Linked DNA regions of Homo sapiens. The protein of the gene in region 1 purifies or fractionates together with the protein of each later gene. This does not show direct contact. Each region holds a gene or a part of one and is shown in the gene's direction. Other genes may lie near its edges.

Region 1 (2,898 bases):
TCAGCCTGCAAGTGGCATCTGTGCCACTTGGCTCTGGAGTCATCTGGGTGGCAGAGGGTCTGGGCTAGAACCTCAAGGGGGTGAGAGAGGCAGGGCTTCAGTGGAAACCCCAGACCTTGCTGAAGCAGGTAGACCTGGGCTGTCTTCCTACCAAGGAGGCCCCCTTGCTCTACCCTGTTCTGTCCCCATCTGGCACACCTGGCCTGGGGTCCCTGGGCCATGGAGGGGACTCTGCTTCCCACTGTAGTGCCCATCCCATTCTCTACCTCTCAGGTCCCCTTCTCCCCCAGCCCTTCCCTGGGGTCCTGGGCTGCCTCCTGTGGCTCTCTGCACCCCTCGTCTCTCTCACCTTTCATTTGGCCTCTTCCCTAGAACTACTCCGGAGACCTCGGGGCGCGAGTGGCCCTGCATGAACTCTACAAGTACATCAACAAGTACTATGACCAGGTGGGCAGGCCCTGGACCCCGACTGGGAGGCTGACCCAAGGCCTCCCAGGAGACTTAAGGGGCTCTGACCCTGTGACTCACGTTGGGGGCTTTGGTCTTCCCCAGGGACAGAGTAGTGGGGGGCCGGGCCCCTTGGTGGCTTGAGAAGTGTTTTCCAGGCGGGCTTCCTGGCATTGGCTGTGCTCTCACCTGTCCCACTGCTCCCCATTCCAGCTCCCCAGCAGGACGGCGAGGCACAGTGCTGGTGGTTGTGGGGGCCAAGGGGTCTACCAGGGCCTGGAGATGGTGTGCATTTGCTGAGTTGGCAGCATGTTGGGCACGGCCAACATGCAAGTGCAGGCCTGGCTTGGCTGCATGAGCTGCGAAGAGGAGAGTCCAGGCACAGGGCCAGGGGTGTGAGGGTACACTGGAGCTGGTGAAGCTTTTTGGAGGATCCCTGGGCTGTGCCTGAAGAGCTGAGCACCTGCCAGTCAACCTGCTGGATGCCTGGTGGAATAGTCCACTTAGATGTTTGTGTGGCACCAGTGACATGGCTATTGCTGCTCAGAGATGAGGAACCTGTCTCATGGCCCACAGCCTTCCTCGGCATGGTGTGGGCCATGGCACGGGGCTTGGGGGAGGCAGGGTGTGATGCAGGCATGTCCCCTTGTGGAGACATAGTGGGCAGTAGCTGTTTTCCCAAGTGCTGCTGCCCTCCGGTTCCTACCGGTTCCCTTGGTGGCAGCCCCAAATTCGTGGTTCGTGTTTGATCAGTGTCTGTTTTCCCACCACGTGTCTGGTCATTCTTGGGTCTCTGCCCCTTGTCTGGCACCGGGCAGACAGGAACTTGGGAAATACTGTTGGCTGGCGGGTGGGTTAGCCAGGATGGCTGCAGCAGGGCTTCTGAGGAGCTCGCTACTGAGTCAGGTCCTTCATTTCCTACCTTATTCATCCTGGAACCCCGCGGTGACTTTGATGTTATTACCCCTCCCGCCAGCGAGGCCCTGAGGTCCCAGAAAGTACGTGAAGTGACCGGCTGGGTTTCTTGGCCTCCTACCCCACTCATGCCACAGCGTCTTAGGAGGGCTGTTGAATTTTGCAGCAAACACGTTGGCCAAAGAAGTCTCCCCTGATGGCATTGGTCTCTGTTTCAGATCATCACTGCCCTGGAGGAGGATGGCACGGCCCAGAAGATGCAGCTGGGCTATCGGCTCCAGCAGATTGCAGCTGCTGTGGAAAACAAGGTCACAGATCTATAGGAACCCAGGAGCCACGGCCTGCTGTTGCTTCAGCCTGGCCTGGGCAGCCCTGGAAGCTCGGAGGAGAGGCCACCTTCTTAGGTGCCTGTAGTGACTGACAAGCAGAGTTAGTGGAAGGTGACTCCCAGTCTCCTGGTGGCTCTGGCCTCGGCCCTGCTGGATCCACCTCCTAGACCCGGGGCCTCAAGGCTCATGGGGTAGTACCCAGCCTGCTCCCCGAGTCCAGCGACCCTGTGACACCGGTCTGCAGGGAGTTGGGGACTAAGGGCTTCCAGAGAGTGGCTGGAAGAGACTCCAGGCCCCTGGGGAGACTGTACTGTTCCTGAACACTGGCCTTGGCCACACTGGGATTCGGAGAGGAAGGAGGAGAGCCCCATGCTTCCTGTCTGCCTCCTCCACCATCCCTGACCTCAGTTGAGCTGCCTCTGGCCTTGTTGCTGCTGCCACATCCTAGGTCTAAGAGTTGAACGCCTCTCCTAGGCCACTACAAACTGACCCCTCAGCAGGGCTGGCTGCCACAGGGCTGCCCTGCCTCATAGGTAGCCATGGTGAGGGCTATCTGCTGCAGGGGGGTCTTGGGGAGAGTGGTGACTCCATTGACCCAGCTTTTCATTAAAGGATAACACACTGCACTGAGTCTGATGTGTGAGCCCGGCCTAGCCCCTGGCTACTAGGAGGACGGCAGCTATGCCCAGCAGGTACCAGGGGGAGGTGGTATCTATACTCTTGGGGAGTCTCATGGTTCCCCATCATATCCCAGACTGCAGGGCTGGCTGAGGCTCTCCTTGACGCCTGGGCAGGGTCTGGTGGGGTCAAAGCTTCCGTGAAGGAAGAACCCCATCTGGGGCAGGGCGGGTGACCGAGATAGAGGGGTCTACAGTCTCTTCAAGGGGGCCTGCTTTATCTGCAGTTTGCGTATTCTCACTTCTCCACTCATGTTCTATTTATCTTGAAAGGGACTAGGAAAGGATGACATAATTACAGGCAACTCTAGGCAGAGGGGGTCTCGAGGGCCATTTTCCATGGTCCTGTTCCTGGACTTAGGGTTTCTGTGTTGCCTTCCAAATCAGGGCATCCTAGGGCCGGCTCCTAAACTGTCTGCCTCCATGAAGGCCGCCTTATATGGTTCTTCCTGATTTGTACCTGGAGGTGAGCTTGGAGACTGTCTTATCTGGTCTCATGTTGCTAGTTGGGTCTGTAGGGCAGGGGGTTG
Region 2 (7,000 bases), on another chromosome or scaffold:
TACTGAGTCTTTGGACCACTCATTACCATCATTGTGACTGTGAAAACAATCAATCAATCAGCTTTAAGGTGATCACTATGACAATGTGCTTTCCAGGTATGCATTATGGGAAGAAGGCAGGGAGGCCTACATTTGTTTCACATGTTCTGTTAGTTAAATGCCAAAAAAATTAGTTTTCCATTTGGTTGCTCCAGAACCCCTGGCTGCCACAGATCATTGCTGGACAGTTGTAGGAGGATTCTTGGTACTTCTGATACAATCACCATTGTCTCTATGCCTTGAATGCCAAGGCATAAACAATATAGAAAGATGTTGTCATCTTTGGAAAAGCTGAGAACCTCTTGGTTAAGACAGCAGTCTCCTTGACTTATTTATCACTTTGTCTACTTCTAGATGTTATTGAACTCTGCCTTGGTAGGGAAATCTTGGGTCAATATTTCTCCAATGAAGTCGGTGGCCCCTTTAGAGACAGGGAGGACTGGGTTCTGATGGATGAAGAGAAATTTCCCACAAAATCTGGAGCTGCCTGTGGTGACTGGTCTTTGATGATGCCCCTTTCCCCACCAAGATCTCACCAAACAAATGTATCTCAGTTGCCAGCCCCTAACTCTGAGTTGATATCCAATATAACAAACTCTCAATACAATAGGATTAATAAAAAATATTTTAATGAGATTCAACCTGGATATGCAATTTGCCTTTTCCTTATGGTCACTCGAATTATCCCGGTCCTGCACTTAACGCTACTTTAATCTGGATTTCAGGTGCAGGATTTGACCAAGGCAAATGTTCTGGTCTTTATGTCTTCCTCTTCTTCCGTTTTTATATAATTATTGTTAGAAGGATTTCAATTTTCATTTTAACCACCGAAGGCTTCATGAGTTGCAAAGGCAACTTTGGTGGATGTTTCACAATTTAGGAAAAAATGTTCCTAATTTTTACTTAGAGTTTTGTTTCTCTGACTTTACAAGTATCTGTTTGGGAAAAAAGAAAGAGTTTTGGGTTTGGAGTTGTTTGGGTGCAATTCTAGGCTGAGCGCCTCTCTGAGCTTGGGTGTGTGTTGTTCCTTACAAGCCTTAGTTGTAGCTTGCACCACCTTCCTTAGGGTGTGGTCCTGATGAGTAAAAGGGACAATATGTGTGAATGTGCTCTGTAAACTCTAGAAGACTTTACAAATGCCAGGCGTTTGTCTTATTTCTGATGCCCTCTAAGGAACTCCAGAGCTTTAACCAGTTTGCTCTGGGTGCATGGTTGGCCATTGCATATGGAACCAGACCATGAGCCACTGCCTTCTCTCAAGTACTTTCGAGTGTCACTGTGTTTATGGCTCTATGATTTAGCACCACATAGGAGGAAGTAATCATTGCACTGCCCCTGAGTGTCTGGTTAAAGGACAAAATGCAGACAAGTGTTGAGTGGACTCCATTTCCCACATGATGTAAGTGGGGCCACGGCAACTATGAGTTACACAGCTATAAATGGGTCACAGCAAGGCGTAAACATCACATGTTCCTCAGTCTGGACTTAGGGTGACACAAGGGAGATATTTGGTGTATCATCCCCACACCAGCCAAGATGTGCCCTTCCCAAATGTAAACTAGAGGTTTTGCTTCCATGTCATTTTTGGTCTGGGTATAAAAGTTACGTGGGGTAGCTAGAGAATGACTTTTCAGCTGGTTGCCATACCTTCCCCATCATTCTCACAAATGTCCCCATACAGGAGAACAGGGCACAGGAGAATAGCTGACAGCTGTTGTCTAGGCAGCAAAGCAGCGTGGCCCTGGAGACAGCCCAATACACTTGCATTCCAACACCCTGACAAACAAGAGTGCTTTACAGAGTGGGCAATTTTAGCTCTGGATCCCTTCCCATTGTTTCTCATTTCTAAATTCAAGCCCTGACACAGAGCAGGGAGCTCAGGTATCTGGATTCCCGAATTTTTGTATTCTGGTATCATGCCAGCATCCCGAGCACATGCTGAGTCCCACAAAGCCAAGGATGGAGACTCTGGCCGTCTGGGGACTTTGTACTCTGGGATGGACTATATCTGACGTTATCCATCAGTGCATTCCTGTTTCCAGGCATGTTGGGCCTTCTTGAATTCTACCGGGACCCGGGAGTGGGGGAAGCTGAGGGACAGGGTGATCTGCAGGAGGACACCTGCAATGGCTCCTGCTTCATCTGCCACCTCATGCCTGGCTCCTTCTGCAAAGAAGAATCAGGTTTATTTTGTAGGCTGAACAAGGTAGCTGTGTAATCAGTTGGTGGAGTTCCTGGCACGTAGTAGGTGCTCAAAACTGGTACTGCCACCATCAGCTGTTTCTCCACTCCCACATGAGCACAGGTTGATAGCACTGGCCCAGCTTCCCCCTCTTCACAGTTGTATTCAGGCCTCCCTTGGCTCTCAGCTGCAGTAAGTAAAGAGGAAGAGCACAGTTCCCCTGGGGCTAATGTTATGTTAAGAATTCCATGCATTTATTTTCCTAAATATGGTCATCTCACAGTGGTCGTGGTGGTCTGGGAAAACTGGATCAAGATTTCTCTGTTTTTAAAAAAAATTTTATTTTCATAGCTTTTGGGGTACAAGTGGATTTTTTGTAACACAGATGAATTGTATAGTGATGAATTCTGAGATTTTAGTGCCCCCGTCACCTGAGTAGTGTCCATTGTACCTAATATGTTGTTTTTATCCCTAGCTCCTCTCCCACCCTTCCCCTTCTGAGGCTCTAAAGTCCATTATATCACTCTGTATACCTTTGCATACTCATAGTTTAGCTTCACTTATGAGAACATACAATTTTTTGTTTTCCACTCCTGTGTTACTTCACTTAGAATAATGACCTTCAGCTCCATCCAAGTTGCTGCAAAAGACATTATTTCATTCCTTTTTATAGATGAGTAGTATTTCATGGGGTATATATACCACATTTTCTTTATCCATTCATTAGTTCTCTATGTTTATAAAACTGTCTCAAAGTCAGAGAGGCCTATAAGCTGAACCCAGTCGTGAAGGACATCTTATGACTCTCCAATGCAAATGGCTCATCCTATGTTTCTCAGTATAGCCATAATTTCACCTATCTATCTGGGACAGATAAAGGATTATCAGAGTCCATATCAAGTCTGCCATATAAATGGTACCCATTTCTGGGTTGCAGATGGTGCTTCTCAGTCTGGACACATCTTGGAGAGAAATCACACCTCATAAAACATGCTTCAGTTACAATTTCCTATGGATCATCACCCATTCCATGCTGCTCAGAGAAGCCCAAGGAATACCTCAGCTTCAAGGGAAGCTTGTCATGGGCCTCTTACTTAGCCAGAGAGACTGGCCATATGTCATCCAGCACAGTGACCATAGCAGTAAAGTGGCTACAGCATACCCTGGCCATCATGGGGCTAGAGCTGGGACCTAGGGCAGAATTGGCAGCATAGTGGAGACATAGCACATCAACCCAACACTCCTGGATTTCTGCATCTATGAGCCTTCACTCATTACTGCTGACTCACATTGAAGAATGTGGGTTTGGCTATAACTGCAACTCCAGTTCTTTTCCTATTTTCATTTCTCCAGTAGTCCAACTCATCAATCACTGGACCCCTGCTATGTGTCAGGTGCCATGATAGGCAATGGGATGTAAAAATGAATAGGACATATTTATATCCTTAAAAGATCCTAGCCTAGTGGCAGGGCAGCTATAGTGGGAAACATGAGGAGTGAGATGATGCATATAAGCAAATAATCACAATTCAGCATGTTACATGGAGAATCATGGGGAGGTTGGATTTAAAAGTTATAACCAAAGAGGCGAGGCCCAAAGGCTCTTGTCATTACAGGAGCAAAAAGTGGTCTAGTGAACTCAGAATATAGGATACTTGAGGGAGAATGACCAGAGATGAGCCTGGATCCTGATACCCCAGGATGAAGCTGTGAAATTGCTGGTCACTCAGAAACCATGGGCTGGGAAGGAAGTGGTATCTTACTTCCACTTTGTGACTGGCATGGACTGAAAATTGATAATTTCTTAAAAAAATTAGTAAACAACCTAAACGTCCATTGGTAGATGTATGAATAAAGAAAATGTGGTAACACACACACTGGAATTTTTATCCTGGAATAAGAAGGAAACTCTGCAATATGTGACAACATGGATAAACTTTGAGGACAGTATGCAAAGTAAAATAAGTCAGTCACACAAGGACAAATACTGCATGATTCCACTTATATGAGGTGGCTAAAGTAGTTAAACACATAGAATCAAAGAGTGAAGTGGTAGTTGTACAACATTGCTGTACAACATTGTACTTATGGTCAACAATAATGTATTATACACTTAAAATGTATTAAGAGAGTAAATCTCATATTGTGTTCTTTTGATAATAAGATAAAATGCTGGGGAAATACAAGAACCTATGCTGACTGCTCTTGATAGCATTTTCAGTTTTGCAATCATTAATAACTTCCTACCTTTTCCTCTGGTTCACAAACCATCCATACCTTGTTAGTGGAGTAGAAACAGCCCTAAAGTCGGGACACCTCTGTTAAAATCCCAGCTTTTCTATCTACCAGCTATGAGACTTTGAGCTAGCTACTTTGATTTTTGAACTTCTATGTATTTCATCTCAACAGTGAGTACAACACAACCTGCATCACAGCAATGCTAGAAATGTTCAATGACACTATGGGCTTTGTGATCTCTAAAGAAATATACAAGAAAGAGAAGCTTTCTTATAGAGAGATCTCTGCTATATACTTCTCTGGATTCAATGGCCAGAACTGGGTCCCATGGCTCCCCCTAGCTGTAAGAGAGACTGAGAAATAGAGTATATTATTTCACTCACCAGCCTTTGTAGTAGAGAAAAACAAGGGTTATGGAGGGTGCCAAACCAGAGTTTCTGCCCCAGCAGGGGGAATATCCTTGTGTATGTAGTTTTCTTTCTCCAGCCATTGGCAATACAAAAGGTGAGCATTCCATTTTTAAGAAAAGATTCAGCTCACTCACATAAGTAAAACACACAAGGAATGACACCAAAGACTAATGGAAAACAAATGTGTAAATAGTGTTCAAGAATCCCTGCATTACAAGAGCTTTGAAAAGAAGTGGCACCATATCAATTAGCTATTGCTGCATACCAAATCACACCCCAAATTCAATGTTTAAAACAAGATCATTTCTTATTCTAACTCATGTGTTTTGGCCTCAGCTGATATAGGTTGGGCTCAGCTGATCTTGGCTGGACTCACTGATGTGTCTGCAGGTCATCTGGGGGCTCTGCTCTACATGGGGCCTGGTTAGGGTGCTTTAGCGGGGGTGGCCCTGCTCCACATATTTCTTGTCCTTCTTCTGGGATCAGAAGGCTAACCTGGCCACACCCTTGTTATGGCAACAGCAGAAATACAAGAGTAAGCAAAAACGTGATACCTTTTGAGGCATAGGCTCAAAACTGGTACACCATCATTTCTGCCTCATTCTGTTGGCCAAAGCAAGATGTGTGGCCAAACTCAGGCATGAGGAATTATACCCCACCCACAGTGGTAGAAAACTACAAAGTTACATGGTAGTAGGGAGAGGTGAAGAACAGGAGCCATGAATGCAAATTTACCTCAGGGATCACTGGTCATACAAGCCATAATCATAAGACTAACAATATACTCTAATCCTTCAGGAGAAGCTATCTTAATTTAGTTTAGAATTACTTAAATCACTAGAGCCAAAGTTGATGGCCACAGCATCTACCCATAGTTCATTTACATTCATGGAATTGAGAGATGAAGTTTTCAAGTGAAAATGGGGTCTTCAATGTTGACTTATTCCTATCATATTGATTTATAAGCTGTCCCTAACATATCTCATGAAAATTATACTAATGATGAACCTGGAGGACATTATGCTAAGTCAAATAAGACAGTCATAGACAAATATGGCATGATCTTACTTATATGTGGCATCTAAAAACATTAAACTCATAGAGGCAGAGAGTCAAATGGTGGTTGCCAGGGGCTTGGGGTGGGGGGTGATGTGGATGGGGCGATGATGGTTAAAGAATAGACCGAATTTCAGATACATAAGAGGAATATATTCTGGAGATCTCGTATTAGTCCGTTCTCGTGCTGCTATGAAGAAATGTCTGAGACTGGGTAACTTATAAAGGAAAGAGTTTTAATTGACTCACAATTCTGCAGGGCTGGGAAGGCCTCAGAAACTTACAATCATGGCAGAAGGGGAAGCAAACACGTCCTTCTTTACATGGCAGCAGCAAAGAGAAGTGCAGAGCAAAACGGGGGAAAGCCATTATAAAATCATGAGATCTCATGAGAACTCACTCACTATCATGAGAATAGTATGGGGGGAACCGCCCTCGTGATGAAATTATCTCCATCTGGCCCCACCCTTGACATGTGGGGATTATTACAATTCAAGATGAGATTTTGGATGGGGACACAGCCAAACCATATCGGATCTATTGTACAGCATCATGACTACAGTTAATAATGTATCCTTGAAAATTGCTAAGAGATCTTAAATGTCCTCATCACAAAAATAAGTATGTGAGGTGATGGATATGCTAATTATGTTGACTTAATCATTTCACAATGTATGTATGCATATATCAAAACATTGCATTGTATACTGTAAATATATACCATTTTTATTTGTCAATTATGCCTTAATGACACTGGAGGCAAAAAACTCATGGTTCCTTTGGTTTTTCTTTTTCAGGATTGATGTGAAGAAATAAAGAGGCAGAAGATGGATTCAATAGCTCACTAAAATTTTATATATTTGTATGATGATTGTGAACCTCCTGAATGCCTGAGACTCTAGCAGAAATGGCCTGTTTGTACATTTATATCTCTTCCTTCTAGTTGGCTGTATTTCTTACTTTATCTTCATTTTTGGCACCTCACAGAACAAATTAGCCCATAAATTCAACACCTGGAGGGTGTGGTTTTGAGGAGGGATATGATTTTATGGAGAATGATATGGCAATGTGCCTA

What was found.
Region 2: the proteins of PLXNB1 (region 1) and SMPX purify together in Homo sapiens (affinity purification with mass spectrometry; 2 studies listed by BioGRID and IntAct, with this or other methods). This does not show direct contact.

The regions. Positions count from the first base shown.
Region 1 is NC_000003.12:48,403,273-48,406,170, reverse strand, and holds the end of PLXNB1 (plexin-B1 precursor), read left to right. Parts: intron 1-372; coding exon 373-447; exon of another isoform or gene 448-448; intron 449-1,580; coding exon 1,581-1,685; 3' UTR 1,686-2,317; downstream 2,318-2,898. UniProt on the Homo sapiens protein: Receptor for SEMA4D. Plays a role in GABAergic synapse development. Mediates SEMA4A- and SEMA4D-dependent inhibitory synapse development. Plays a role in RHOA activation and subsequent changes of the actin cytoskeleton.
Region 2 is NC_000023.11:21,706,117-21,713,116, reverse strand, and holds part of SMPX (small muscular protein), read left to right. Parts: intron 1-2,418; exon of another isoform or gene 2,419-2,431; intron 2,432-6,722; 3' UTR 6,723-7,000. UniProt on the Homo sapiens protein: Plays a role in the regulatory network through which muscle cells coordinate their structural and functional states during growth, adaptation, and repair.